7 separate regions of the Homo sapiens genome follow, and regions 1, 2, 3, 4, 6 and 7 are each reported to be linked to region 5. Evidence: microRNA targets listed by miRTarBase, many of them from high-throughput screens and not tested one by one. Region 5 holds a microRNA gene; each other region holds the end of a gene's coding sequence.
The links. The annotated mature microRNA hsa-miR-6766-5p reads CGGGUGGGAGCAGAUCUUAUUGAG and lies in region 5 at 1,149-1,172, opposite strand. An mRNA with a match to its seed (bases 2 to 7 or 8) in the 3' UTR can be bound and repressed. Matches are read on the target gene's strand: a 7mer-m8 pairs with bases 2 to 8, a 7mer-A1 pairs with bases 2 to 7 and ends in A, and an 8mer does both.

Region 1 (4,077 bases), not on the chromosome of region 5:
TGGCCCAGCTGGGCGATTACATGTCCTTCCACTTTGAGCACTATCAGGACAACATCAGCCGTGTCTGCGAGATCCTCAGGCGCCTAACAGGCCGAGCCCAGGCCTGGGCAGCCCCCTACCTTGATGGGGACCTGCCCCTGCCTGACGATTACGAGCTCTTCTGCCAGGATCTCAAGGAAGTTGTTCAAGACCCGAACAGTTTTGCTGAGTACCATGCTGTGGTTACCTGTCCCCTGCCCCTGGCCTCCAGCCAGCTGCCAGTGGCCCCTCAGCTGCCTGTGGTGAGGCAATACTTAGCTAGGTTCTTAGAGGGCCTGGCACTCGACATGGGTACTGCCCCCAGGTCTTTACCAGCCGCCATGGCCACCCCTGCTGTGTCTGGGTCCAACTCTGTATCTAGAAGTGCTCTGTTCGAGCAGCAGCTGACCAAGGAGAGCACCCCTGGGCCCAAGGAGCCCCCAGTCCTGCCCAGTTCTACATGTAGCTCCAAGCCTGGTCCTGTGGAACCAGCCTCTTCCCAGCCAGAGGAGGCAGCCCCCACACCTGTCCCTAGACTGTCGGAGTCAGCTAATCCTCCTGCCCAGAGACCAGACCCAGCTCATCCAGGAGGTCCAAAACCCCAGAAAACAGAGGAGGAGGTTTTGGAGACAGAGGGAGACCAGGAGGTGTCCTTAGGTACCCCACAGGAGGTGGTGGAGGCCCCGGAGACCCCAGGAGAGCCACCACTTTCTCCTGGGTTCTGAACACAGCCCAGGTGGGAACAATGCTGCCCCTCATGATGAAGTGGCCTGTGTGGCTTGAGCGCCCCATAGTCCCCAGTCAGAGCAGAGTGGTGTCCCCAGATGACTTCAGACCCCATAGCTGGGCAAGATGCGCTTGTTTTGGACTCTGCGCTGAGCAGAACCAGCTCCCCCAACTCCAGCAGAGCTTGACCTCCGCCCTGTGCCCTTTCCCTGCTGCTGGCTCTCTGCTGCATCCCTGCCCGTCTTCTGGGAGTGCCGTCTCACCCAGGCCTGCTCCCACGAGGGGGTCGTTTTGTAGATCAACTCTCAGCAGATAGTTGCATCATCTTTGTCACCTCCACCCCCATAAAACACCCCCCTTGGTGTCTTCCACACTGGCTGGGACTGAACTGGGTCTGCCACGTCTGCCCTGTTGGGACCTCGTTCCTGTATGGGGTTTCTGTGTCTGTCCCCCTAGCCCCACCCTCTCTGCTCCCTGTGACTTCTGTCCCAGCTGGAATGTGAGGAAGGCTGCCTGGAGGAAGTGGCCACTTTGATTCTGGGGGATGAGTGGGATAGCATCTTGGCAAAGAATGATGTTTCCTGTGGGATTACCAGCAGTTCTGGGCAGCTGGAAGGTTTGGATGCAGGAAGGTGGGATGCAAGCCCCTTGCCAGGCTCAGCTGCAGGCATTCGCCCTTTGTGTGTTAACACTGTAGCTCTAATCGTGCCTGGTGTTCTGAAGCAGGCTCCTCTTCCCTGCTGCTGTGCTGCCATCCCCTGCTCACTCCGCACTCGCATGCATTGCGGATTCAGCACTTAAGCCCTAGTGTGTAAATGACTTGGATCTCCCTCCTGGCAGACTGTGACCCTCAGCACAGGGGCTCTGTCTTAGTCAGCTCTGTGGCCTGGTACACAATTGGTGCTCATTAAACACGTGTTGGATTACTGGCTGAGGTGGTGCAGTGGCTGCCTACCAGCAAGTCTTTGTTTCCCATTCTGTCAGGAGCAGAGGCCTGGCCATGAGCATTCCAGGTCAGCATTGCAGCTGTGGTTTCTGGCAGGGGCTTTGAGGGTCCAAGGGTCTGATCAAAGAAGCTGGGTGGGGCTGAGTAGGGGGTGGGTGGCTCTGCAGGTAGAGAACTGACTTCCGAGAGCTGTAGGTGAAGTGAGGACCAGGCAGCAGTCCAGAGCTGTGAGGCCCCAGGCCCAGAGGAATGGAATGAAGAAAGACCTGTTCCACACAAGGAGGGGTTTTCTAGTGGAAGCTGAGCTTGGAAGCTCCTGGAGCCAAGTTTACCACAGGATAGGCAGGTACAGCCGCCCAGTGTGTGCAGTGTGTGCCCACTCTGGTGCTTGGACAAGAAGTTCAAGTCCCTTTCAGGTTTACAATTGTGAAAACAACAAAACAACACCTTCCTGGAAAGTAGGAAGAAAAAGCAGAAATGTGAATTGGAAATACAGCCAACTATTTTAGGAAAAACTAATTAGCAAGCATCTGATTAAACTTATTCAGAAACTGGCCGGGAGCAGTGTCTCACACCTGTAATCCCAGCACTCTGGGAGGCCAAGGTGGGTGGATCACCTGAGGTCAGGAGTTCAAGACCAGCCTGACCAGCATGGAGAAATCCATCTCTCCTAAAAATACAAAATTAGCCAAGTGTGGTGGTGCATGCCTGTAATCTCAGCTACTTGGGAGGCTGAGGCAGAAGAATTGCTTGAACCCAGGAGGCAGAGGGTGTGGTGAGCCGAGATCACGCCATTGCACTCCAGCCTGGACAACAAGAGTGAAACTCCATCCCAAAAAAAAAAAAACAACAAAAAACAAAAACCTTATTTAGAAAAATATAAATTGTTGGGATTATTTTATGGTAACTATCACTAGAAAAGGCTCTGGGTTCAGATGGTTTTATGTGTGAGTTATTTCAGGGCACAGATACCTTGTAGGTAAAACAACTGGAAACCTTGGAAATAGGTGGGAAGCTATTTTTAGAAAGCAGGTATAGCCCTGGTAGCAAAGCAAGTGAGCTGGCAGAAGAAACCCATTTTCAGTCTTGATTCTGGTCAGATGTGAGAAGTCCCTGGATGTCCTGGCCCAGCCCCATGCTTCTGTGCCAGGTCACAGCTGCCCTCCGTCCGATGACTCAGGCCCCATCCCCCCTTTTGTGGGTTGGGTCAGACTGCTCCCTGATGCCTACCTCCAGTGCACTGTGGCCTGGCTCACCTGTGGGTCTGGCAGTAGAACCCAGAGTTGCTCTCTAGGATGGACAGCCTAGTCACCCAGCTGACCTTTACCCTGTCCCACAGGCTTCTGGACAGGCCACCTTCCCCATCTCCCTTTAGTGGACCTGAAGTGGATACTCCAGCCTGGGATTGCTGCCTTCTCTTTTGAACCCTGTCCTATTGGGGCTTTGGGGCTTTTGTGCCCTTGGGACCCAGGCAGCTCCTGGGGGTGTGTGAGTTATGGTCTGCCGTGTGTCTGAGGGCCAGTCATGCAGCATCCACCTAGGCAGGCTTGAGAGTCCTTGGGAGAGTCCAGGTGACCTGGTTTTTAATTAAAACGCGTCCTGTTTATTGTGGTTGGGCTCTGCCCAGAAAGGAAGGTAGGGCCTTGAAGTGGTGATGTCCAGGTTTCCTGCACAGGTAGGGTGGAGGCAACGATGGACTCTGGCATGGCCTTCCAGACAGGCAGTGCACACAGCTCCTTTCAGAGTGGCTTTGTTGCCAGCTGCTGCAGCACCTGCTTTCAGACAGATGATGACCAAGCTGCTTTCCTGCTGGGGGAAGGAGGCATTCCCCCTGGGTTGTTTTTCTCTTCTGGCCCCCACACACTGGCAGACCCGAAGGCAGGGTGCTCAGGAGCTGCAGAGCCTGGCAGGGTTTGCTGGACATGCTCAGGGACGGGCCATGGTGCTGGCTCTGCTTTCTAATCATGGTGTCAGTCCTTCACTTCCCTTGGAAATACCCAGAGATTTTATTTCCTGAAGATAGGACATGATGGGTGCTGTGAGATGGTATTTAAAGTACCTGTCTGCAAGGAAAACTTTAAAATAGGAAGTACTAAGGATAAGGTCCTATGGGATATTGGAATATTTTATAAAGCCACAATAGTTAAAGCACTTAGATGTGGACAGATGAGCAGAGAATAGAGGACTTTGAAACGGGCCAAATAAATATGGAAATTTAGTACAGGCTAGAGGTGTTTCCAATTAACGAGTAAAATGGATTATTCAGTAAAAGCAGTTGGCCCTCTGGAAAATAGTAAAGCCATGTATGTGCCTCACTCTTTATGCCAGTACATATTCCAGATTAAAGATTTCAATGTTACAATTATGAAAGTACTAGAGGAAAATAT
Region 2 (4,077 bases), not on the chromosome of region 5:
TTTTTTTTTTTTTTTTTTTTTTAAGAGACAGGGTCTCACTATGTTGCCCAGGCTGGTCTCAAACTTTGGGCCTCAAGCAATCCCCCTGCCTCTCAGCCTCTTGAGTAGCTGGAATCCCAGCCACAGGTATGAGCCACTGGGCCCAGCCAGACAGAGCTCTTTCTTAAAATTCTACTCAAGTCTTAAAGCTGTTGTTCTAATGGCTACAAAGTAGAGTGTTTCTAAGACCGACAGAACTTACGGTCTTTCTCAGATTTTGTATGGGCTAATGTTTATTTTTAAAAGAGCCTGTTGATTGATGTTTTAGGTAGAAGACCATGATGGAGAAGGTGATGTGGCTGGAGATGATGATGATGACGATGATGATTCACCTGATCCTGAAAGTCCAGATGATTCTGAAAGCGATTCAGAGTCAGAGAAAGAAGAATCTGCTGAAGAACTCCAAGCTGCTGAGCACCCTGATGAAGTGGAGGATCCCAAAAACAAAAAAGATGCAAAAAGCAATTATAAAATGATGTTTGTTAAATCCAGTGGTTCATAACTCCCAAACGCTTAGTCTTTGTATTAAAAGTAAGCCTTATTGTTACAATGCACAGTGGAGGACTGCTTATAGAGCACAGACCTTTGTATTATAATTTTTAAAAAGGCCCTTTTAAATAATTACAAAGAGTGTTTGCTTTCAAATGCCATGGGTTACACTTTTATGGGCATGACTATAACCATTTTTGTAAAGAGTAAGAGTTGTATAAAATAAGAAATAAATACAGTACTCAACTTCCTTTCATATTAGCATCATCAACCCTCTAATTCACCTTATGGGGGAAATGCTTCTTTTTGTTTGTGATAGCTATTTTATCATTTCCTTCATATTTTTCTCTTATAAAAATGTATTTGATACTGTGATATGTTCACGAAAAGTATTCTTTAATTATTCTTTGTTATAGTAGAGCTGTTCATTATGGATATTTCTGCTGCCAGTCACAATCTAAATTAATTTTGGCAAAAGATTGGGTACTTAGTTTCCTGTTACTGAGTTAGCTCTACTCTTTTGGACCAAAGCAACATGAGAGCAAGTACTTTTCACACTTGTTAAGATGGAGTTATAACTGTCATACATTTGGAATATTATGATCCCAAGTAGTCTTTTTATAATTTGGATTGTATCGTATGTTAGATTTTTGATAAAATTTGGCCAATTTTTACAGAAGAAATTCTCTGATCATTTAGTTCTGTCTATTTAGAAATATGTAAAACTGGATTTTTTTTTAAGTAATATGTGACCAAAGTTAATTTTGTCCCAAAGGTCTAAATAAAGAGCAGTTTCCCATATTTGGCTGTGATACCTTTATCCTCATTATCTACAAATGAGGAACAGGCTTACTGATAAGAAGCTGAAACAAGAAATTCTCTTCATTTTATCCCAGTGCTATTTTATTGATTAATTACTAAAAAGTATTACTTTCTAATTTTATTGCTGTTTCTGTTGGTGTGAGATTAGAATCATCTGACTGCTATTAGGTGGTTGATTTGTATAGCTGATTAACACAAATTGCATTATGAGCTAGTAAATGGATCTTTGGATAATGGGGTCCAAATTCTTAATGTTTATAAGTAACAAGTTCAAAGGCTTTAGTCACACCTGTTTGTGAGCTGAGCTATTATACATCTACATACTTAAAGGATGTATTTGGAGTGTTGGATTTTTTTTTTTTTTTTTTTTTTTTGAGACGGAGTCTCATTCTGTCGCCCAGGCTGGAGTGCAGTGGCGCGATCTCAGCTAACTGCAACCTCTGCCTCCCAGGTTCAAGCGATTCTCCTGCCTCAGCCTCCCAAGTAGTTGGGACTACAGTCATGTGCCACTACTCCTGGCTAATTTTTTGTATTTTTAGTAGAGTTGGGGTTTCACGGTGTTAGCCAGGATCGTCTCGATCTCCTGACCTCGTGATCCACCCACCTTGGCCTCCCAAAGTGCTGGGATTACAGGCGTGAGCCACCACGCCCAGCCTTGGAGTGTTGGAATTTTTAAAAATTATTCTTATGTCACTTTGAAATGTAGAACGTGTTGCCATGTGCGGTGGCTCACACCTATAATCCCAGCACTTTGGGAGGCCGAGGTGGCTGGATCACCTGAAGTCAGGAGTTTGAGACCAGCCTGACCAACATGGAGAAACCCCATCTCTACTAAAAATACAAAATTAGCTGGGCGTGGTGGTGCATGCCTGTAATCCCAGCTACTCAGGAGGCTGAGGCAGGAGAATCACTTGAACCCAGGAAGCGGAGGTTGCAGTGAGCCAAGATCACCCCATTGCACTCCAGCCTGGGCAACAAGAGCAAAACTCCATCTCAAAAAAAAAAAAAAAAAAAATTTAGAATGTGTTAGAGAAATTTAACAAGTAGAACAGGTGATTTCTGGTTGATAGACTCTATCTTGCAGTATATTTATTTCATGTATCAGACCCCAAAGTTGTTGCCTTGTTATTTTTTTAATTTCTCACATTTTTGAAAAATAGATGCTATCCTCTATAGTAAAATATTGAATCACTTTATAGTAGACAATACATATGACATTTAACAAATACTTGGTTTGAAAAAGTTTGGCTTTATTCAACAATTTTAGTTTGCCCACTGATTTTCAAATGTCTGTGGGATTGCTTATAACTAAGTAGAAAGTGAAGACTGATTTTTACTTAAGAATGGGATAGAGATGAGTTTTATGGTTTTTAAAAGTATTTTCAGTTCATTATTTAAATGTTGGGTTGTTGATATGGTCTTGTTTCTGATAAGGAAATAGGAGCAACTTGTTTTAAAATAACTACACTAAAAGACTTTCTTCATCTCCGTATAGAGAAATCCAGATTTCAATTAATTCATTTATTGGGTGCTAACAAAATTCAGGGTTAGAGTAAATTTAGGTCTGTTGGTCCATGTGGCCTGGTTTCCTAGCACCCATTAAACATAATGCTATCTTTTAAGCCTGAACATGTGGGTTTTTTAAATCAAATTGGAAAAAAATTAGACAACTGATGTCATGCTGTCTTGGTATCCATACTAAAAAAGTATCAGGAAAATAGATTATTTTTGTGCTGTGAAACACTATTCAGTGGAAAGTTTAGTGGCAACTTTTCCATATCATTCATGACTTAATACCTGAAATGCACTTTTAAATGTTTGCCTTATATCCAAGTGTTTACTTGTATCCATGACCTAACCGTCTATTGAAAAGAATGTTTGCAGATGCAGATTGCAATGTTGTTTGTATTCATAGGCAAAAGTCCTCTTCTCTAGTATAATTTTTTAAATCTGAGAGAATTGAAGGTACAGAAAAAAATTCTGGAGTGCCTGAACCACAGTTTGAGAGCACAAAGGTCACATTCTTTCAGTAAATTTGGGGGAAATAAATTTCAGCTACCTGGTTAGCTTCAGTGACTACTTACACACAGGGCTTTGGTTCCATTACTTGTTTCCACCACAGCCACATCCTAAATACTTGGAATATCCGAAAACAACTTCTAAAATCACTCAATAAAAGTATTCACTTCTAACCAACTCCTCCTCCTTTATACCTGCTCTGTGTTAGGGCGTAGTCTGTTTCCACCTCTGTAAGTCCTATCTAGGCTTCCTGATCTATCAATTCAGTATCATGATTGTTAACCCAAACGACTTCCTGGAAAATTCCCAGCCCTAGATGTATCCAAGCCCTCCTACCCTCACCAGTTATTTCTGGAGAAAGATCACCAAATGTATAAATCCGTATTAGTAAAAATTGGTTTTAACTGACCTCAGCACTGCCCATTACCCTTATTTTCTCTAGTCGGTTCTCCATTCTTACTATGTAAAACTTATACTCTGAAACTTGTTACCCTCTTTTTTTCCTTCACTCTTAACATGTCCTTGCCTTCTATCTTACATAAAAATAGAGACCTTCAGGCACAAATTCCCTGAACTTCACTTACTAAATCCACAGCCATGGACAAGATTCTGTGCTCTAGGTTGTGACATCCCAACTCTACCACAGGGCTAAACTCGGTGACCTTGAGCATAAGTTGATCTCTCTGGGTCTCCTTTCTGGGTAAGTAA
Region 3 (4,077 bases), not on the chromosome of region 5:
GGAAGAGTGGTGCTCAATGTAGTCGTGGCTCAGGAGAAACCAAAATAGTAAAAGCATGGCTTTCTCTCACCAGCTTGCTTGCCTGTCCTGGCTCCCTGAAGAAAAACTTCACTGGGGGGCCAGTCAGTCACGTTAGGGTCCCCTGTCTGCAGCCTGGCTGTCTGCAGCTTATGTGCAGCTCTTCTTTCTCTACTGCCAACAGCCTGGTCATTTCTGTCTATTTCTTTAACTTCTTTCAGATGTGCCATGCACTGATTCTTCCTGTGACATCTATTTCACTTTCCTTTAATCTTCCAAATCCTCACTTTCGTCCAATAATTAGCAGCCTAACCAGTGGGTCCACGCTTTACTGTAATGAATTCAGTTTAATCAGCTAATGTGAGAGAAATGACACTCTTCATGGAAGCTGTGGGAGGTGAATTTTGCATATGATCTAGTGGCCATTTTATCTCTGATTGGAATTCCTCTTCTGGTCTCATTTCAGTGTTATTTGTACCTGTTCTACAGTCCAGCCAGGACTATGAAGGTGGTGCTTATGCTGCTCTTTATTTGCCTGGGCAACATGTACCTGCACGGGCTGAGGAACCTCTGGCAAATCCTTTTCCACATAGGAGTGGCTTTTCTGTCTTCATATCAGATACTAACAAGGCAGCTTCAGGAGAAGCAGTCTGACTGTGGAGTATGAGGATGACACTGTGATGAATGGATTCTTTGATTTTCTTTTGAGGATCAATCTATGTTTCTCTTTCTGCTTCTCTACTTTACACTCCAGTTTCCATCCTTTTCAGCCAACTGGACTGAAAAACCAGGAATTGGGGATGTTAAACAGTTGCAGTGGAAGTCATGAGGTTGCTTGATACCCAGCCTTGGTTCTGTGCCAAGCATTACTGCAGGATCTCCAGCCAGTTCAGCACGTTTACCTAGGACAGCTGGATCTGGGGGCTCATCCAGAAAGAGCTTTATTGGAAGAGAGAAAGGAAATATTTTGGTCTTTTAAGTTGAATGATACAGTAAACCACTTGATTCAATAACACTGGTTTTAGTCATTGAGAGTTGTCTCCAAGGAACCACTTTAAAATCCAAATCAGCTTTCAGTCTAAACATAACTTGATTAGTTTTTTTTTTCAGAGGGTCAGTACAGGATGAATTAAAAACCTAAAAATATGGTTCATAAATGTAAGCTAGATAAATTTTGTTTACATTTTTTCAATATCTTAGGTTCGATATACCTTTGGAATATTTAATTATATTTTGGATATAAATTGGACTTCATTTAGGGTGAGGGCAAACTTAAGCTGAGAAAATGGTTAAGAAATCTGAGTTTATTTAATTTATATGTAACCTTTTATAGTGGTGGGACTGTTTGGGTACAGAGATGTTTTATATTTATTTGCAGGGTATATCCGAATATTTTAAAAATTAATTGAATAACCAGTACTTCTAGATGATAAGTTTGTCAGCATGAGCAGAAATGAGAATTTCAGGATTACTTACAATTGACCACAACCTGGAGTAGGTGAATGAACATGGATTCAGTGGCACTTTACAGATCCGCTTGGGAGGGGCTGCTGTCATCAGCCTTTTCAGTAGAGCTGAGTGCCTGTTGTTTTAATGATGATGACTACTGTACCCTGTGTACCTGTTCCCAGAGCGCCTCCAAAATTAATTACTCCTCTGCACCTTTCCCAGTCATCTTAATTAGCTTGAGGGCCTCATTTTTTATGAACAAGAGTTAAGTATCTGTTAACTTTTTAAAGCTTGATAGAGATATAATTAACACATACTCTGGAAAGTTACTCTCTTTCACTGTCAAAAAATTGATTGATCACAGTTTTCCAAAATATGGTTCTGGATAAGATCCCTTAGGTTTCCCGAAATTTCAGCCTGGCTTGTTTTGTACCACGCAGGAGGTCATTTTGGGAGTTTGCTCTTTGGATTGTTCTTGGTAGAAGTCTGGAATCTGAATAGTTCAACCACAGTTGCATGGAACACTTTGAGTGTTCAACTGCATTATGTGGTCTTGATAAATTTTTAAAAATCCTATTTTGATAGTTTTTAAAAGTGGAAAACCATTACAAGAGTTGAGTGGATAGGGAATGTAAGAATGTAGTTTTAGAAAAATTCAATTATATTTGGTTATCACTGGTATTGTATTGTTATTGAGCTACCTTGTTATCATTTTAAGAAAAATAAGTTTATATACTGGGAACTATGTTGGGAAAATGTTGCCATAGTAACTTTATTTTTTATAATAGAATTTTCTATTTTTGACCAAACATAAAATATTTGGATATGGGCCAGGCATGATGGCTCATGCCTGTATTCCCAGCACTTTGGAAGGCCAAAGCAGGAGACTCGGTTGAGGCCAGTAGTTTGAGACCAGCCTGGACAACATAGTAAGATTCATCTCTACAAAAAAAAAAATTAGCCGGATGTGATGGCACATGCCTGTAATCCCAGCACTTTGGGAGTCTGAGGCAGGAGGATCCCTTGAGTCCAGGAGTTTGAGGCTTCCATGAGCTATAATCACACCACTGCACCCCAGCCTGCATGACAGAGTGAAACCCTGTCTCTAAAAAGTCTGAATATGAAAATTATATTGGCAGCATACTCAGACATAAACTCCAAAGTTGTCTCTACACTGATTTCACATCTGCATAATTTTCTGCATACCCAGCAGGTGAATTTTCAGTTTTTCTGGGAGACAATTTTGAAGAGATGGTGAAATAGAATGGGAAGTTAAGGAGGGGAGGTAAAATGTTTTAAATGAGAAGAACAAAAAAGCTTTAAAAGTCAATAACACTTTGGGAAGCTGAGGTGGGCAGATCACGAGGTCAAGAGATCGAGACCATCCTGGCTAACATGGTGAAACCCCATCTCTACTAAAAATACAAAAATTAGCTGGGCACGGTGGCTTGTGCCTGTAGCCCCAGCTACTCAGGAGGCTGAGGCAGGAGAATCTCTTGAACCCGGGAGGTGGAGGTTGCAGTGAGCCGAGATCGAGCCACTGCACTCCAGCCTGGTGACAAAGCAAGACTCCGTCTCAAAAAAAAAAAAAAAAAAAGTCGGTAAGAACGGCTTAAAAATGGACTGTTTTCTTTTCCTATGTGGCATTGGGTTGCCATGTAGACCTGTACCCCAGGTGCTTTGGGCATCTGAGCCTATGATCCATATTCAGCAGGCAGTAAAGAAACGGTCCTTGAAGATGAGTCCTTCCTGGTAATGCTTCCTGACCACCGAGGCACTACCAGAGATGTTATCCACACCAGGTCGAATGTGTGGATATCAGTTAACATCTACATGGGGTGAGATTGACTTTTGCAAACAAAAGGGAAAAGATGCACTAGAAAAACAGTACAAGTAATGACCACAAAAACATTGTTTGACTGAAATCCAGCTAGCTAAAAGAATCCTCAGCTCACTGAAGGAAGAGACTGAAAATAGGAAAGAAGTTCTGGTGATTTCATCCGAGGGAAATCCCCAGGCTTAGGTTTGACTTGGTTCAGGGTTGGAGGTTTATAGCCTCTTGTGTGATCCTTGATACCAGCAAACTGGTTCCAAATCCCAGGAGTTATCCTCACTCCACCATGGACTCACTGTTGTTGTAGCACTTTTGTTTTCCCAGTAGTTAAATGCTACCTGTGCAGCTGACATCACTGGACTAGATCTGGGAATAGATGAAATAATGTTGAAAACAAAACTTTAGAGGTGCCTTCTGGTATCAGATGCTGCAAGGCCTTGAGCATCAGAGTGTGTTAAGTCCCATCTACTGTATCAAGGCCAGAGTGTGGCTCCATGCTCTTAGGAAGGGTTTCCCAACCACGGGGCCAGAGCCCAAAAGGTTTCCCCTTCCCTAATATGCTAATGAACGAAACATGTAAATCTGTTTTCCCCTGTTAGGCTAGTCTTACTGTGATGAGAAGTGTACCTGGCTTTCCTTTTCCTGGGTGGAGACAGCTGGGGCATATTCGGGTGGCATTCCCTCTCAGTACCAGAGGCCCCACTGCCTGCAGCTGGAGGCATGTGACCATAAGCTCCTGCTTTTGCTTTTTGGGCTTGCATCCCTCTTTTCTGTGA
Region 4 (4,077 bases), not on the chromosome of region 5:
CACAGAGACCTTCAGCTGGCCCGACGTCCGTGAGCTCTGCTCCAAGTATGCCTCCCGCGATGAGGCACGCCGAGCAGGGGGCGGCCGGCCCCGCGGCCCACCCGTCAACAGGAGCCACTCGGTGCCGGAGAACATGGTAGAGCCACCTCTGTCGGGCAGGGTGGGCCGCTGCCGCAGCCTGAGCACCAAGAGGGGCCGGGGAGGCGGAGAGGCTGCCCAATCCCCTGGGCCTCTGCCCCAGAGCAAGCCGGATGGAGGCGAGACCCTGTATGTCACTGCAGACCTCACCCTGGAGGACAACCGGCGGGTGATTGTCATGGAGAAGGGACCCCTTCCCAGCCCCACTGCAGGGCTGGAGGAGAGCAGTGGCCAGGGACCAAGCTCACCGGTGGCCCTGCTGGGGCAGGTTCAGGACTTCCAGCAGTCTGCAGAGTGCCAGCCGAAGGAAGAGGGTTCCAGGGACCCGGCAGACCCGAGCCAGCAGGGCAGAGTGAGAAACCTTAGAGAGAAGTTCCAGGCCTTGAACTCTGTCGGTTGATGCTGACTCCTGGGGGAGGGAGGAGTCATGTTGGAGGTTGGGGAAGAACCTGGGCATCCTTCCCCTCAAGCCTGGGCTCATGGAGCCCCTGCCCAGGGCCCTCAGGTGGGCGGAAAGTCCATCCCCTCCGCCCTTCAGGAAGGATGCTCCCGTGTGCAGGGGTCTCCTGCCTGTGCCATCCACTGGGGCTCGAGACAATTTCCCACTCACCTGTGAGGCCGGTGTGGCTGCTTCCCTTGTAAATAGTTGTTCTCTGGTAAGAAGCCAAATATTTAAGCTCACTTCTTCCCAGAGAGAGGAAGCTCTGCTCAGGCCTCCAGCGTTGGCTGGCCATGGCCACAGCCAGATGGAGGAGCCCATCCCCAGGAGACTCAGGCAGTGGCCTGGAGAGGCTTTGTTCTGTAACGGTGCCTTTTCTTAGGGTCCAGGCAGGAATGAAGCCAATAATTTATTGCTTTCCATTCTGTGGTATGATGTGCGTGTGCGTGAGTGTGTGGCCCCTGTTTATTCCCCTCCTGTCAAGAATGAAGTGGATTCAGTTCAGGTACTTTTGAGGGTTGTTGTGCTGACCCTGTGGTTGTCGCTGATGTACACACATTTCATTATTTGCCAATGGTGCAATAACCACTGCTGACCAACCCACTATGTGTGAACTCCTTCCTAGGCTTGGCTGGGGTAGGGAAGGTTATTCATGGGCCAGGGATGTCTTAGGGAGATGGAGACATGGAGGTTGTTCCTTCCACACTCAATTGTCACTTGGGCTTATGAAACATAAGGCACCCGGGTACTGGTGGGGGAGGTGGGGCAGGAGGATGTGAGGGCGGGCTTTTTCTTTCTGCTGCCTAGACTCCCATGGGCTTCTCTGTCTAGCAGCAGCCTGCTGTCCTGTCTAGGGTAGGGGGTCCCGCATGCCAGCCTTTTGCTCTTTTCCCCAAGGGCCAGAGTTGGACCAAGAAAAAGGGAGGTGGTGAGGTGGATAGACTGTTTTTCTCATAAGCAGATGCTCCCAGTATCTGGTGCCTTTTGCGTTTCTCTCCGGTCCCCAGGAAACATCCTAGAAGACAAGGATTTTTTTTTTTTTTTTTTTTGAGACAGAGTCTTATTCTGTCACCCAGGCTGGAGTGCAATGGCGTGATCTTGGCTTACTGCAACCTCCGCCTCCCAGGTTCAAGCAATTCTCGTTGTCTCAGCCTCCCAGGTCGCTGGGACTACAGGCATGAGCCACCACACCCAGCTAATTTTTTGTATTTTTAGTAGAGACGGGGTTTCGCCGTGTTGACCAGGCTGGTCTCGAACTTCTGACCTCAGGTGATCCACCCACCTCGGCCTCCCAAAGTGCTGGGATTACAGGGGTGAGCCACTGCATGCGGCTGAAGGTAAGGATTCTAAACTCGGAGACTAGAAATGTCCTAAAGGTGTCTGCAACATTGGATGAGGAGTACAAGTGCATTTTTCTGGGATGATTCCTCCCTTTTTATCACATTCTCAGAAGTATCTTTGATTCAGAAGAGTTAGGAATGCCTCCCTATTTCAGTTGGGTTTTCTGCCCTTTCTCCACAGAGGTCCAGACTCATTTTGCTTAATTTTTTTTCTAGCTGGGGCCTGGGAGGTAGAGGCTTCAGGGCCTGGGTGGTAGAGCTGCCTGACAAGTGTTCAGCAGGGCTGCTGGGTCAGGGCCCTGTGGGCCTTCTGACCCAACCTGAAGATGGGTCTGCTAAGTCTAACAAGGTCAAGGGAAGATCAGAGGGACCCAGATTCTTTTTTATCCCCCACTTGAAACGGAGTCTTGCTCTGTCGCCCAGGCTGGAGCGCAGTGGTGCAATCTTGGCTCACTGCAACCTCCGCCTCCCTGACCCTCACACTGTCCAGTGCCCTTGTGGTTACTCAGCATCATATCTTGAGACTGGCCTGGCAGGAGCCAGTGACTGTGGAATGACCACAGAAGATTCAGGGCAGCTGCCAGACCAGGGGCTATCTCTGCCCTGCGCTGCTTCTGCTCAAGAGAGGTTGTCACTAGCCTCTGATCTTCCCTTGAAGAACCCGACTGGGGCTCTTCAGAGGGTGGGGCCCAGGAAGTTGTAGTTAACCCCTTCCCCAGGCAGTCCTTACACGGCCATCTAGGTATGCCTGGGAACCTTGCACCAGGTCGGTGGTTCTCACTGGCTGCCCATTGGAATTATCTGGGGAGCCTTCTGGAAACGCAGTGCTTACATTCCATCTCCCTAGACCAACAGAAACTGCCCTCTGGAGGTGAATCCCAGGCTTAGAGATTCTGATGATTCTGCGGTCCAGTGAGTGCTGAGATCTGTCCTGAGCTCTGTGGGGAGGGGCCTGGACTGATCACTGCTTGGAAATGATTTTGCCCTACAGTAGGCCTTCAAGTTGATCAAATGCATGAATGAGCAAGCTTTTCTTGGAGTTTGTGATGAAGCCCAGGAACCGGGTGCTTGCAGTCGTCCCATAAGGCTCCCAGGGACAAGCTAGAGAATCTGGCTGTCCCTCTGTCTCCATGGTGCCAGCCCTCTTAGGCTCAGTTCAAAGGGAGAGGAGGCTAGTTAAATAAGAAACTGAGAGAAACATGGAGCATTATTGATTTATTAGAAAAACTAGTAAATGGGTTTCCTCTGGTTGGTGGAAGCACGGTTGAGCAGGTGGAGGACAGGACCCAGCTGGCCCCAGGGCCAGCCCCAGATTGCATGGTCTGTGCCCAACAGGGTTGCATTCCTCTGCAGCCGCCGCCTCCTCATTTCCTCCCTGAGCTTGTTTGTCCAAGCCACCAAGCCATGTGGTCCCGCTGGCTTCATCCTCCTCTGGATTCCTGCCCCCCTCCCATGAAGGGAGGAAGAGGATTCAGGGTCAGCCTAGGGGACCCTGGCTCCCTCCGATAGGCAGGAAGGAGGAGGGATGCGGAGGAGAGGCTGAGCCTTCCACGGGCCTCCTGTTAGGGGTGTTGGTGGAGGCCAGGTTGGGGAGGGAAGCCTAAGGACCCTCCACACCTCCCACAGCCAGAGTCAGTTGAGGCTGGGACAAAGGGGAAGGAGAGAGGGAAGGAGGACCGCCTGACCTTGCCCAGAAGGAGCTTCCTCTAAACTGCCCTGGGAAGGAAGCCTGGTATGCTGGTGTGGACTGGAGCTGTGTCAACCTCGTTTGGGAATACTGTCAAAAGACTGTAGAGTAGAATAAGGAGAGAAAAAAAAAAAAAGACCTTGCTAGGGCACTGGGAGAGCTTAGCCCTGGTGTGGCACACACAGGGTCTCCCAAAGCTGGATGCCTGCATTTTCAGTCTAGTTGGTCGAATGTCTTGGAGCCTGGGTGACAGGAGGGATGTGTGGGGAGCTGGCAACAGAATGGTCACATGCAGCTGGCTGCCCTGGACCAGGCCAGGGGACCTGGGGTGGTGAGATGCTAGCTCTTCCACTAGAGCCCTTCCTTTCTCGGGTCTGTGGAGTTGCTTGCTGGAAATGCCTCACTTCAGGTGCTGATTTGGCACACGTGGAAGGGGGAGGGTGGGCCCTTGTCCCTAGGCTCCCTAAAGACTG
Region 5 (4,000 bases):
GGCCCGGGGTCCATGCAGGGTCGTCTAGCCGGGGGCAGAGCTTCCGGTACCATCTACGTCCCAGCAGGAAGACAGCAGTGTCACGATGGTAAGGGCAGTTGTTGGGGGGAAGGTTCTCTCTCTCACAATGTCCCCACCCACCCTCCAAAGCCCTGGGGCTTTCTGGTGACCCCAGCCTACAGCCGCCATCCCCTCCTCTGGGATGCTTTAGCCAGGACCCCCATGGAATCCTCTAGAAGAATATTTCAAAAGCAAAGACACTAAGTCAGTCCCACTGGACTAGTCAGAAGCCAGGACACAAAAGCATACCCTGACCCAGGGCAGGGCTCCTTCCCAAGCTCCATTTCATCCAGGGTAACTGACCAGAGGAGGGAGCAGATCTGCCCTCCCCACCCCTCTAGAGAAACACCAGTCCTTCTGGGTGCTCTCTTGCAGGCTGTTCACCAGAGTTGAGCCCAGGGTGAGACTAGCAAGGCACTCAGGACACTTGCTCTCAGGGTCTTGCAGGTGCAAAGCTGGCACCCTGCTGCTCACCCTGGCTGCCCTTTTTCTCATCTCTGCCACCCTATGAGGCTCAAAGGAAGGGGCACCTTCTCAAGGAAGCCTTCTTGATTTATTTCCCGAGGCAGAGTCAGAACTCTACCTATGGACACTAGCTGCACTGGCTGGTCTACGTGCCTGGCTCCTCCTAGGAAAAAGAACTACTGGAAAGGAGGAGCTATGCTCCAGTGTGTACACCCGGTGGCTGCCACGGGCCATTGCACAGCAGGTGCTCACAACACTGTGCTGAATGAGTCCAGTGAGCCGGTCCAGAGTGAGCAAATGAGAATAGGACTGGAAGACAGTGTGACTGAATGGCAGCAGGTCAATAAGTATACATGTGCATGATGCCTCTGTGCCAGAACCCAGACCAGGGCTGTCCTGAGAATGGAGCAAGGGTAGACTCTAGATACACTGCTGGGGGTGGGCAGGGCTCACCCAGGGTGTCCAGGAAGGTGCTGGGGCCGCTTGGGCAGGAGCTCTGTGGTCCCCTTCAGCTTCTGCAAGCAGGCGCGGGCCATGACATCTTGTTGAAACTCCTCCTCCTCACTGCAGGGGCCGAGGTCTGTGAGGGTGGGGGAAGACAATCAGGAGCAGGAGAAGGAACTCTCAATAAGATCTGCTCCCACCCGCTCATCTCCAGAAGGCTGGAGCAATCCTTTCGAAGGACCCCCTCAATCACAGGACCTTCCCAGAGACAACCCCTACCCTACCCTACCTCCCACCCATGCTCCCCACCTTCCTGATCCATGGGATCACCAGGGGCCCCAGCCCCCTCGATGGGCAACTTGCTGGCTGTGGCTGGTTCCTTCTTCACCTTCTTAGCTTTCTTCTGCTTAAATTCTTGCAGGTCCCACTCCAGGTCCCAGAGCCAGGGGTCTTCTTTGTACCTACAGAGCCAGTCCACTAGGGCAGGGCTAAGGCTAAGCCGAAGGCTAGGCCGCCCACCTGCCAGTCCCCTGCCTAGATCCTGCCCACCCAAGGCCTGGCTACCTCTCTCCTGAGAGCAGCTGGCAGGCATCATTGGCCAGATCCATCAACGACTTCTTCATCTCCCGCTGGAGCTCCTCATAAGTGCCCTGTGCCTCTGCCAGGTAACGCTCCCAGTTCTGGTTGACAGGCAGGTAGGAGACACCCATCTCCAGCATGCCGGCCAGAGTCACTGGGTGGGGACACCTTGGAGGCAAACACCAGGAGCTGCCATAAATGACCACAGGAGGCAAGACTGGCCCAATCCCTGAGCTGGTTTAGCAAGCCTCAACCCAGCCACTGACATGGCACAGCTCAAAAGTCAGACGGCATTAAATCCCAGCTCTACTGTTACTCATCCCTGGGTAAGCAACCCCATCTCTCGGAGCCTCAGTTCTTTCATCTATAAAATGGGAACAATATCATCCCATCCTCAGGGGTAATGTGGGAAATATAGATGGCAAAAGTGAAAATGGCTGCCACACGTGGAGTAATGACTCTGTGCCAGGCACTGTGCTAATAATCCCATACATGAAAAACATCATGCCTGAACCTCACAACTTGGGTGGTAAAATACAGCTGACATTTAAACAACACATGTCTGGATCGTGCAAGTTCACTTACACATTTATTTTCTTCAGCCTTAGCCACCCGAGACAGCAAGCCCAACCCCCGCCCTCAGCCTACTCAACGTGAAGGATAGATATCTTTATGATGATCCACTTCCACCTAATGAATAGTAAACATATTTTCTCCTCATGATTTTCTTAATACATTTTCTTTTATCTAGCTTACTTTAAGAATACAGTATATAATACGTATAACATAAAAAATATGTATTATGTTATCAGTAAAGCTTCTAGCCAACAGCAAGCTATTAGTAGTTAAGCTCTGAGGGAGTCAAAAGTTACACCCAAATTTTCCTCCCTTCTTTTTTCTTTCCATATCTTTGGTACAAATATACCTGAATTTTCAGCATACAAGGGTCACTTCATAAGACAGACTCATTAATAAACATAACCACGCTGTATGTGAAGCCCTTGGCTAAGGATCTAGTTAGAGAAGGTGCACAGTAAACCAGGACCGTGCACATGACACACAAGCACAACTCCATGGCCCTCCCCTTCAGGGCCTCTGTCAAATCCAGAGTCCAGGGCCCAGATGGACACCACTGAACAGAAGGGCTCCATTCTTTCAGCCTAGAAAAGCTAAGGTCCCCAACCTGAGATAGAACCAGCGCCACCTGATTACAGTGGGCCCGGGTACCAGGAACACACTGACCCCCAGAGATTCCCACATGGGCTCCCCCTCACCTCTCCAAGAAGAGCGGTAGCTGCTGCTGGAAAACCTCATGGGTGGCCCACACGTCCTGGGCACAGTACTGCATCAGGTCCTGGCACAAGGTGACAGGAAGGCGCAAGGTGGGCAGCCATCCCATTACCACCACCAGCTCTCAGGGTCAGGCCTGGCAGCTGCATCTCCCCAAGTGCAGCTAGGGGTGTGCCACAGCCCATGTCCCCAGAGCCCCCTCCAGCACCATACCTGGAAGTTCTCACGAATGTCCTTCATGGTGCCCTTCACAAACAGTTCTCGAGGCTCCTTCTCTAAGGGAGGCCCCCCTACATAAAGTCTGTGCACCTCTGCCAGACTGTTGACACTGCTGATGTCCAGCCAGTCCCAGGATGAGATCTGGGGAACCAGAGCAAGGGACATGGCAGATCAGCCTGGCCTCGGGCCAGACGGGCTGGTGAGAGGGGGTCCCAAGCACTATGCTCCTGCCCACCGGCAGTGTGCTCTCACCGCTGGGCCTCTTCTGGCTTTCCTCTGGGACTTCTGGCCTTGCTTTGTGGGGGGCTGGACCTTGTGTTTGCCCTGCTTGGCTGCTATCCACAGACTGCGCTGGAAGCTGCTTAGCCCTGAGATGGCCATGTGCATGCTCATGGTGTCCAGGAAACGCATGCGGGAACCCTGAGGAGGAGGAGGAGAAAAGGGAAGGGAAGGAGGGAGGCTGCAACTGTGGGGCCAGCCCACCACTGCTTGGTGGTGTGGACCTCCAGCCCCACCTCAGCTCCTCAAACAGCCTCCCCTCCCAGCACACAGCCTTCAACACCAAATACAGAATCCTCATGCTTGTTCATGCTTGCCCCATCACCTGTAAGGGGCCTGCCTTCCCAAATCCTAGCCACCCTTTAAGATGCAGGCCTGGCTCAATCCCAATGTGCAAGTCCTTCTCAGCTTCCAACAATAGCTCTGAGCAACGTAGATACAGAGTGGCCAAAATAAAGCCTTCAGGGCTATCTGGTCTGGCCCCAACCCTGCCACTCAAAAGCTCTGTGGCCCTGAGCATGTCAACAAGGCTGTCTGAGCCTCAGCACCCTCAGCTATAGGGTAAGGTTGCTCTCCCCTGCCTGGCCTATCTTCTAGGGCTGTTGTGAAGATCCAGTGAAAAAACACTTTTCATAAAATTAAGAATTGCCACTACTATACACCA
Region 6 (4,077 bases), not on the chromosome of region 5:
TCTGGAACTCCTGACCTCAGGTGATCTGCCTGCCTTGGCCTCCCAAAGTGCTGGGATTATAGGCATGAGCCAGTGGGCCTGACCAGCTCAGGTTAATAATAAGCACTTTAATAATTGCTAGATTTGTAAAAAGAAACATTTGGAAGACAACACCTTAAAATCGAGGAAACTGGATTAACTTTTCCTGGGTGAGTTGAGGTGCTGCTGTGCATTTTGCTTTTCTTGGTTCTGTGGTCACCACTTATACTTGCTATTAGTCACCTATATTAATCTGATCAAGTTTACATTGTTTTATCTCCTAACTGTCAAAAACTTTGTTGTTGTTGCCTCCATTGGCAATAATCTAAGCAAAATGCCTTTCCACTGTCCTAAAGTCAATTTTTGTTACTGTACAGAGGAGGAAGAAGGTGGGAAAGGTGAAAAGAGGAAGAGAGAAACAGATGATGAAGGAGAAGATGATTAAGACCCCAGATGACCTGCAGAAACAGAACTGTTCAGTATTGGTTGGACTGCTCATGGATTTTGTAGCTGTTTAAAAAAAAAAAAAAGGTAGCTGTGATACAAACCCCAGGACACCCACCCACCCAAAGAGCCAAAGAATAGTTCCTGTGACATTCCGCCTTCCTTCCATGTAGTCCCTCTTGGTAATCTACCACCAAGCTTGTGGACTTCACCCCAACAAAATTGTAAGCGTTGTTAGGTTTTTGTGTAAGATTCTTGCTGTAGCGTGGATAGCTGTGATTGGTGAGTCAACCGTCTGTGGCTACCAGTTACACTGAGATTGTAACAGCATTTTTACTTTCTGTACAACAAAAAAGCTTTGTAAATAAAATCTTAACATTTTGGGTCTGTTTTTTCATGCTTTGCTTTTTAATTATTATTATTATTTTTTTTACATTAGGACATTTTATGTGACAACTGCCAAAAAAGTATTTTTAAGAATTTAAGCGAAATAAACAGTTACTCTTTGGTAAAGCCTAGTTGTATGCTTACATTTTTAAATTATACTCTCATTGTAAGCTCATGTTAAAACACCAAAGAACTGGTTTATTTGGCATTTTTATATTAGTAGTTGTTGAGGGGAATTGCACAAGTGTGTAGGATCTTTGAGCATTTAGATCAAATCCTCATTGATAACTGGGAGTAAATGAAGCATACTTTAAAAAATAACGTTCAAAATGGAATACTCTGGGGCCCTGAAAACCAGTAAAATGTTAGGTTCAAGTATTATGTGAATTAAGGGAAAGAAGATAGTGTAAAGCAAAAGGCCTTCACCAGAATCCCAAGAGATCTGAATTCTAGTTCTGGCTCTGCCACTGATTTTCTGTGTGACCTTGTGTTGACTCTGGGTCACCACCCAGTCTGGAAAATTGAAGGGGTGTGACCAAATGGCTTCTGAAGTCACTTGTAGCACTGATGTTCTGTGACCCTTGCTGACAGGAAGGTCTGAAGAGAAAAATGGGCTTTCCACTAGTCTGAAGCATGTAGGGTTTGACTGATGGGTGAACACAGTATGGTTTGTTGCCAAGACAGGCGTGAAAAGGGGGAATGACATGTGAAAAGCCTCACCAAGCAGTGGGTAGGCACTGCCTGAGGTCAACTCAGGTTTTCCATAAGATGGAAATTTTCTCTATTCTTACAGATCTTAAAGGGATTTGAGAAAGGAGGATATTCTGTCTGTATTCAGTGATTAACCGTTTAGCGAAAATAGATGTATGACTGCATTATCAATACAGTTTTTTATAGTGGAAGATTTAAGGATTGTTTCAGTAAATTTTAGCTTATAGCTGCTGGAATGAGTGAGGTTTTTGATGCATGTAAATGCAATATGTAAAATTGGAATCTAATTTGAATTTATAACAAGTCACAGTCTCTATGGAGCCCCCAAATACTGTACTTTAAAATCAAAATCTCCCATAGACTTTAAAATGGAGTTTCTTTTTTGCAAAGAAAATCCAAGAAAATTTGATTTCTGATTTTACAGGTATTACACATCATTTTCCCCAACCATAAGGCCATTTTGGCAAACCTTCAATACATTGTAAAATGGTTTCTTCTGTAGCCTAAGTGTGTCCTTAAGGTTTTGCTTATTTGTCAAATATCAAACACAGTAACTTTGAGTGATTATTTTTCCCGGTTTGTTGTTGTTGTTGTTGTTTTTAGTTGTTTTTTAAAGTTTACAGAACTTCCCAGTATCTACCAAGCCTGTAGGATATGCCAGGCTTATTGGCTGGGCAAAAGGGAAGGGAATTGGGTTAAAAAGACAAGCCAGCCCTTGGTGCTCATAGTAACTAGTCAGGAAGAAAAGACATCAACACAAGTAATATTTACTAGGACCTAGGAGCAAGAGGTTTAGGTAAGTTTTAGTGTAGCTCAGAGGCTGGAGAGATGGCACCCAACCTGGAGGGAGGGAAGCTTCTTAGAAAAGAAAGTACTTCAGCTGCACATGCAAGTGTGAATAGCGTCTATAAATAGGAATAGAGAGAGAAGGGAGTATCTTGGTGAGCAGAGGTTAAAGGTAGGAAACTGCTGAGTACAGTTAGATACAAGTAGATTTGACAACACATGAATAGATGATAATACTGGACAAGTCATTTGGGCTCTTGTAGGGGGCCTTGAAGGTCAAAGCCTTTTTGTGCATTATAGTAAAATATTGATGTCACCTGTATGTGGCCAGTGAAGATGCCTTTGACATGGTCCTCAGAGAAGCAAGCTGTTTGGTGATGAGGTCACACAGCAGACTATTTTTGGAGTTGTCTCCCATCTGAAGGAGAACATTGAGAGGGTTTGCTTCCAGCTTCTGCAGTAAGTTTAGTTATAAAATGTCTGAGCTGGGTGGCAGCTATGATGGGCTAGATGACTGGTCCTGACTAGCTGCTCCGAGGTTGGTGGAGGTGTGTTCTACATACACACCTACATGTGTGATACATTGGTATGCCATCTTTTTGAAGCTATTTTCTTTTTTCTTTTTTTTTTTTTTTTGAGATGGGAGTCTTCGCTGTCGCCCAGGCTGACATGTAGTGGCACAATCTTGGCTCACTGCAACCTCCGCCTCCTGGGTTCAAGCAATTCTCCTGTCTCAGCCTCCCGAGTAGCTGGGACTACAGGCGCCCGCCACCACGCCTGGCTAATTTTTGTATTTTTAGTAGAGACGAGGTTTCAACATACTGGTCAGGCTGGTCTTGAACTCTCCTGACCTCAGGTGATCCACCCACCTTGGCCTCCCAAAGTGCCAGAATTACAGGTGTGAGCCACTGTGCCCGGTCCATGGCGCCCTGTTTTCAACCTCTGCTCTTACCTTTAGTTCACTCCTCTTTCAGGAGTCCAGCACCTGAAGAATGATAGTGGCCAGCGTGGAAATGCACAAACCACCTTGTGTAAGATACTGCACCCTACCCGCTCCTGTATCACCACCACCAGGACTCCTGGTACATACTCCAGGACAGATACAGGAGAGTTGAGTCGTCCTGTTCCTGGCATTCCTATCTGGGCTACACTACCTACCCCATCGCCAGAGAAAGGTGAGACAGAAGCACAAAGTGGTTGTACACTATGCTATGACCTTCCAGTTTTCTCCAGCTCTGTTGCATTGTGCTGCCATCAATTTTAATGAGCCTGATGATACCGCCGTGTTGACAGTTTGGAAAGGGAATCAAGTTACTAGTAGACTTAAGCTGCAGCCAGCCAAACAGTTGCTCTGCAGGAAAATCACCAAGATTGCAGTGAGTGTGGAAGTCCTCAGAGCCAATTAGGTCAGCTTAATAATCTCTGATCAAGTGGGTATTTTATAACTTGTCCCAGGGGTGTTGGGAGGGCATATGGAGAAAATACCCTTATTCTATTGCTTTTTGTTGTTGGAGACGGTCTGACTCTGTCACCCAAGCTGGAATACACTGGCACAATCATGGTTCACTGCATGCTCGACCTGGGCACAAACAATCCTCCCACCTCAGCTGAGTAACTGGGACTATAGGTGCGTGCCACCATGCCTGGCTAAATATTTTTGGTAGCGATGAGGTCTCACTATGTTGCACAGGCTGGTTTCAAACCCCTGGGCTCAAGTGATCCTCCTGACTT
Region 7 (4,077 bases), not on the chromosome of region 5:
CTGTAACAGACGGGGCAAGGGCCGGCCCTCTGCAGCACTCTGCTGGACTCTGGTGCAGTGCCCATCTGCATCATAGAGCAGCCAGTGTCCCTCAGAAGAGAGGCAAGAGCAACCCCTTGCCACAGCTGCCCAACTCTTAGCCCAGTGGTGCATCGTCAGAGGGACGGACTGGGTGAGGGCTATGCTGGTCCAGGGTGGCACTTAAAAGTAAGGGGATCGTGGTGGATACTGCTTTGAGAGTGACACATAGCACCCCGGTGAGGGTCCCGTGTCTGAGACAGGACGTGCCTGCCGGGAAGCTGGTTGTCTGCAACCTTGTGTGCACTCACCTGGAGGGGGGCGGGGTGGGGGTGGCAAACCACAAAATCCCTAGGAGAGGCAGCAGGCTGGGGAGGGCACCTGAAGTTGGTCTGGAAGTCAGTCAGTGCCTACAGGCACCAAATGGAAACGTGCTCATAAGATAGATGAGAAGCAAAACTGAGGGCCCTTTCTGGAGGTGGAAGACAGCCTGTGGCGGCAGTTCCAGATTGACACAAGAGACGGGCTCAGGCTGGGGCGGCACCATCAAGGCAGAGCACTTCTCACAGAATGTGGCAAGCTCAGGATTGATGACCTTTTCCAATGTTTGCCACGGGGAAGCCCAGAAAGGCTGTCTTTTGGTTGCAGCAGGCAGGTATGCATTGTGATTGATGGCTCAGGGCTGTTTTTATGTTTGCGTTACATATGGAATGGGGGCACCGGCGCTCTTGCCAGTGCTGAGAACCTCTCAGTGTCTTGATCAGGCCCTGGGAGGCAGGCATGCTCCCGACTCCCCCCGCGCATCCCAGGGAGGCAGAATCCACGGGAACTGGGCTCGTACCCAGGCACTGCAACCAGTCAGGGGATGAGGGGCAGGACAGAAGGGCTGTGCGTGAGTGCTTTCGGGAGGGCAGTGCCAGCAAATGGACAGGAGGGTTTTGACTTGGGCCAAGACAACGCCGTGGAGACACTTGGACGCTGATGGGCTTTTCTGTGACAGAGTTTGCTCAGGAGATGGGCAGAAAGCCTCTGGGGCGCTCCCTGAGTTAGGACTCAGCTGCGGCCTCACGGTGTCAAGTGCCTCAGCGATGGTGGACAAGCGCACGTAAAGGGAAACTTGGTAGCGTGCAGGGAAGTAGGGAGGTGCATGCTAATTCGGGACCACAGGCTAGGAGGATGCCTTTGTGCTCAAAGAGACTGAGCAATGAGGTGTCACTAAAGACAGCATTGGCGAAGCAGGCTCCACTGGGAAAAGTGCATGCGGAGCTGTCTGCAGGGAAATCCCCTTTGAAATCAGATTGCCCAGCCAAACTGCGGCTGGCTTGGGAGAAAGGGTGGTCCTTCTGACAGCTCTTAGGAACCCTTAGGAACCGGGACAGGGCTCCCAGAGCCAGCCAAGGAAGCCCCAGCAGTGTGAGCCTTGACAGGGGATGTGGTGTCACAACAACTGCAAGTCACTTGTTGGCCATCCCAGGCACCAGGGCCTGGGAAGAGGTCTGGTCCCCATTCCAGGTGGGAGGGTTTCCCAGAGTTGGTCAGGGGACCCGGCAGGCACTCAGGCCGTCTGGCCAGCATGGACTGTGGGGCAGATGGTACAAGCAGGAAAGTTGTAACCCACCTGGAAGGCAAGCTGCGGGGGGAAGGGAGAATAAGACAAGAAAAGAAAGCTTTGTTCTGTGTGGAACAGAACAAGCAGAATGCCCAGCACCACAGAGATCGCAGCTGCCCAGGACACAGTGACCCACAGCAGCAGCCCTGGGAGACCGAGAGGGCACCGGGCACGGCAGCAGCCTTGCCCAAGGGGAAGCAGATGTGTTTACTGGGTTTGCCATGGCTTTAGGGAAGGGGACCACTTCTTGACACATCACAAACATGCAGGGAACCTGGCTTTGCTGATTCAGGGGCTAAACCTGCTGGGCGGGATCTGGTAATGTTGGAGGTGGGGGCGGGGCAGAACGAGCTGCCCTGACCCATGGAGTGCTTCTGCGCCCACGGGCTCTTCCTTTCCTGGCAAGGTGCAGGCACCTCAGATGGAGAGTGTGGAGGTGTCTCCGGATGGATGGAGTGGCCACGGTCGTGCCAAGTGCCCTCAGCATCTGCCCTATCACCCCCGCAGGTAGTTGATGGAGGGCTCCACTGTCCCCTTCCTGGGTCCCACCACAGGTAGTGGGGATATGGAAGAAAGGAGGTTGCTCCAAAGGGAGCAGCGGCCAACCCTCTCACTCTGCCAGGAAGTAGCGCTGGGGATCCCAAGGAAGAGAGAAGGAGGGCTGGAAGCAGATTTCCCCCTGGCTTCGCAGGAGGGATAGAACTACACAGGGTAGGTGCTGGGCAAGCGGCAACCTTTATCGCCATCATTGTGCAATAAATGCGCCCCGATGCGTGGTAGAGCGCCCCCACCCGTTCCACCCCGGTCCCCATCCCCACGTCGGGATGCGCCGACAATCGAAAAGGCCAGGGTTACTGACCTTTCTCTCCAGGCTGGCAGTCAAGGAAAAGACATTAAGAAGGGATTTCTCTGTGCCGGGGCACGGTGCTGCCTGCTCCACGGGTGTTGTCTCTTTCAGTCCTCTCAACATTCCATCCTAATTCCACGAACTCCCCCGCTGTGCCCCTCCCCTTCCCCCACCCCCGCCTCCAGCCCCTTCTTGAAGTTTATTCTGAGCACTGCAGCCCCTCTCTATCCCTGCCTCCTGTGAGCACCGATAAGCCTGCATTTGTCACGGAGCAGACGTTCCAGTCAGCTGGCGTTTACCGTGCTTTTTTTTTTGTCCTTCTCTCCGTGCAGACTGTAAACTCAAGGACAAGGACCATGACTCTTTTCTGCCAATCAAAGCACACAACTTTATTGATGATACACACAGATGCGGACTTGGGTGGAAGAGGTTAAGTCGGTACAATAGACAGAAGAGCAGTGCACTTTTTTGATGAATAGGTTCACTATCCATCAGGCGCGTGTAGAAGAAAGAGCAAACGAAAAATAATTCAACCTAAGCTGCAACAAATGCATTTTCAGCTCAAGCCGCGATATGCCTCTGGTCTCTGCAAAGCGGTCCCGCTTGGACAGGGAGACCACCACAGGCAACAATAGCACTCGTGATGCTGTAATTTGATGTTCTTTGTCCACAGCAGGCAGCTGAAGTGATCCCCTCACCACATGAAGGAGGCTGCAAGGGAGGAATTTACAATGCCAACATTGCCTGCAGACTGCACAACCAAGAAGTTACTCAAAGCTCTGTGGGAGCCCCTGCCTGGCCAATAAGAGTGTGGTCCTGGATTGAGCCCTGGAACTTTCACCCAATGAGGTGGTGATTGGCTAAGGCTGGATCTTCAGTAGCACCCTCTGCAGATTCTTTGACATCTGCAAACCAAGCGCGTTGTGGGTGGATTCCGTCCCATTGTGTTCGAGAGGGCCGTTTATGGGGCAGGGGTTTCCAGGAGAATCTCTCTGTTTCCATTTCTGATAAAGAGGGACATGAATGAGAAGAGCATCTGGGCACCGACTAACTCCCCCGCCAAGACTGGCTTTTCAGACAAACCCATCAGCGGTTTCAAAACCTGAACCTTAGCACATCCACTTCCCTCTGATATCAAAGGAAACTTCAAGTCTGAAGCGGACTTGGCAAGCATGTTATTAATAACTGTCATGCTTATTAACAAATTTAATCCGGCCTGCTGCAGAAATGAGTTGCAGCAACGTGACACAGTCTCCCGACACACTTCATTGATGTACATCTTAATCTGGCCCTGACTTTCAATACTCGCATTTAAGTTATCCGGGGCACACAAAGCCTCTCTAACAGTGGGGTCTGGAGTGGGGCTCGTGTTTCTAGCCATTGAGAGGCTGGCCAAATGGCTATTGATATCCTGGCTAAATGGAAAGCCCGCATCCTTGGGCTCGGCAAACAACAGTTTTCCCTGAATGAAAAGACACTTGGAGAGGTCCAGAACACAACTGCCATTTTTACAATTTTGAGCACTCCAAGTATTTTTATGTTCATAGGGGAATGGCCGCTGTTTTATTGGGTGTGCTCGGTTGGCCTTGCCTCCCCCTGAGGG

Region 1: miRTarBase lists RTL10 as a target of hsa-miR-6766-5p. Seed matches in the 3' UTR shown: 7mer-m8 at 1,202-1,208.
Region 2: miRTarBase lists C11orf58 as a target of hsa-miR-6766-5p. Seed matches in the 3' UTR shown: 7mer-A1 at 1,947-1,953.
Region 3: the mRNA of SEC22C is a reported target of hsa-miR-6766-5p. The part of its 3' UTR that is shown has no 7-base or 8-base seed match.
Region 4: miRTarBase lists PLEKHG3 as a target of hsa-miR-6766-5p. Seed matches in the 3' UTR shown: 7mer-A1 at 1,852-1,858.
Region 6: the mRNA of ANP32B is a reported target of hsa-miR-6766-5p. Seed matches in the 3' UTR shown: 8mer at 576-583 and 8mer at 580-587.
Region 7: miRTarBase lists ARMCX6 as a target of hsa-miR-6766-5p. Seed matches in the 3' UTR shown: 7mer-A1 at 3,399-3,405 and 7mer-A1 at 2,892-2,898.

The regions. Positions count from the first base shown.
Region 1 is chr22:19,847,833-19,851,909 of GRCh38, reverse strand. It overlaps RTL10 (retrotransposon Gag like 10), which reads left to right. Exons shown (of 3, transcript NM_024627.6): 3 at 1-4,077. The coding sequence ends at 743. All of the region lies in intron 2 of GNB1L (G protein subunit beta 1 like), which reads left to right. Among named protein-coding and RNA genes, the nearest start is that of GNB1L, 5.0 kb to the left of the region's middle.
Region 2 is chr11:16,754,564-16,758,640 of GRCh38, forward strand. It overlaps C11orf58 (chromosome 11 open reading frame 58), which reads left to right. Exons shown (of 5, transcript NM_014267.6): 5 at 308-3,777. The coding sequence ends at 541. Among named protein-coding and RNA genes, the nearest start is that of C11orf58, 18 kb to the left of the region's middle.
Region 3 is chr3:42,549,856-42,553,932 of GRCh38, reverse strand. It overlaps SEC22C (SEC22 homolog C, vesicle trafficking protein), which reads left to right. Exons shown (of 7, transcript NM_032970.4): 7 at 485-4,077. The coding sequence ends at 685. Among named protein-coding and RNA genes, the nearest start is that of VIPR1-AS1, 19 kb to the right of the region's middle.
Region 4 is chr14:64,743,166-64,747,242 of GRCh38, forward strand. PLEKHG3 (pleckstrin homology and RhoGEF domain containing G3) reads left to right here. Exons shown (of 17, transcript NM_001308147.2): 17 at 1-4,077. The coding sequence ends at 538. SPTB (spectrin beta, erythrocytic) reads right to left here. Exons shown (of 36, transcript NM_001355436.2): 36 at 3,118-4,077. Among named protein-coding and RNA genes, the nearest start is that of MIR7855, 40 kb to the right of the region's middle.
Region 5 is chr15:89,325,634-89,329,633 of GRCh38, forward strand. It overlaps MIR6766 (microRNA 6766), which reads right to left and starts at 1,177; the gene lies at 1,106-1,177. It overlaps POLG (DNA polymerase gamma, catalytic subunit), which reads right to left. Exons shown (of 23, transcript NM_002693.3): 4 at 3,310-3,477; 5 at 3,052-3,198; 6 at 2,823-2,902; 7 at 1,534-1,716; 8 at 1,279-1,430; 9 at 979-1,105; 10 at 1-53.
Region 6 is chr9:98,014,969-98,019,045 of GRCh38, forward strand. It overlaps ANP32B (acidic nuclear phosphoprotein 32 family member B), which reads left to right. Exons shown (of 7, transcript NM_006401.3): 7 at 396-975. The coding sequence ends at 463. Among named protein-coding and RNA genes, the nearest start is that of ANP32B, 34 kb to the left of the region's middle.
Region 7 is chrX:101,612,283-101,616,359 of GRCh38, forward strand. It overlaps ARMCX6 (armadillo repeat containing X-linked 6), which reads right to left. Exons shown (of 3, transcript NM_019007.4): 3 at 2,843-4,077. The coding sequence ends at 3,436. Among named protein-coding and RNA genes, the nearest start is that of ARMCX6, 3.7 kb to the right of the region's middle. RefSeq lists an enhancer at 1,327-1,889.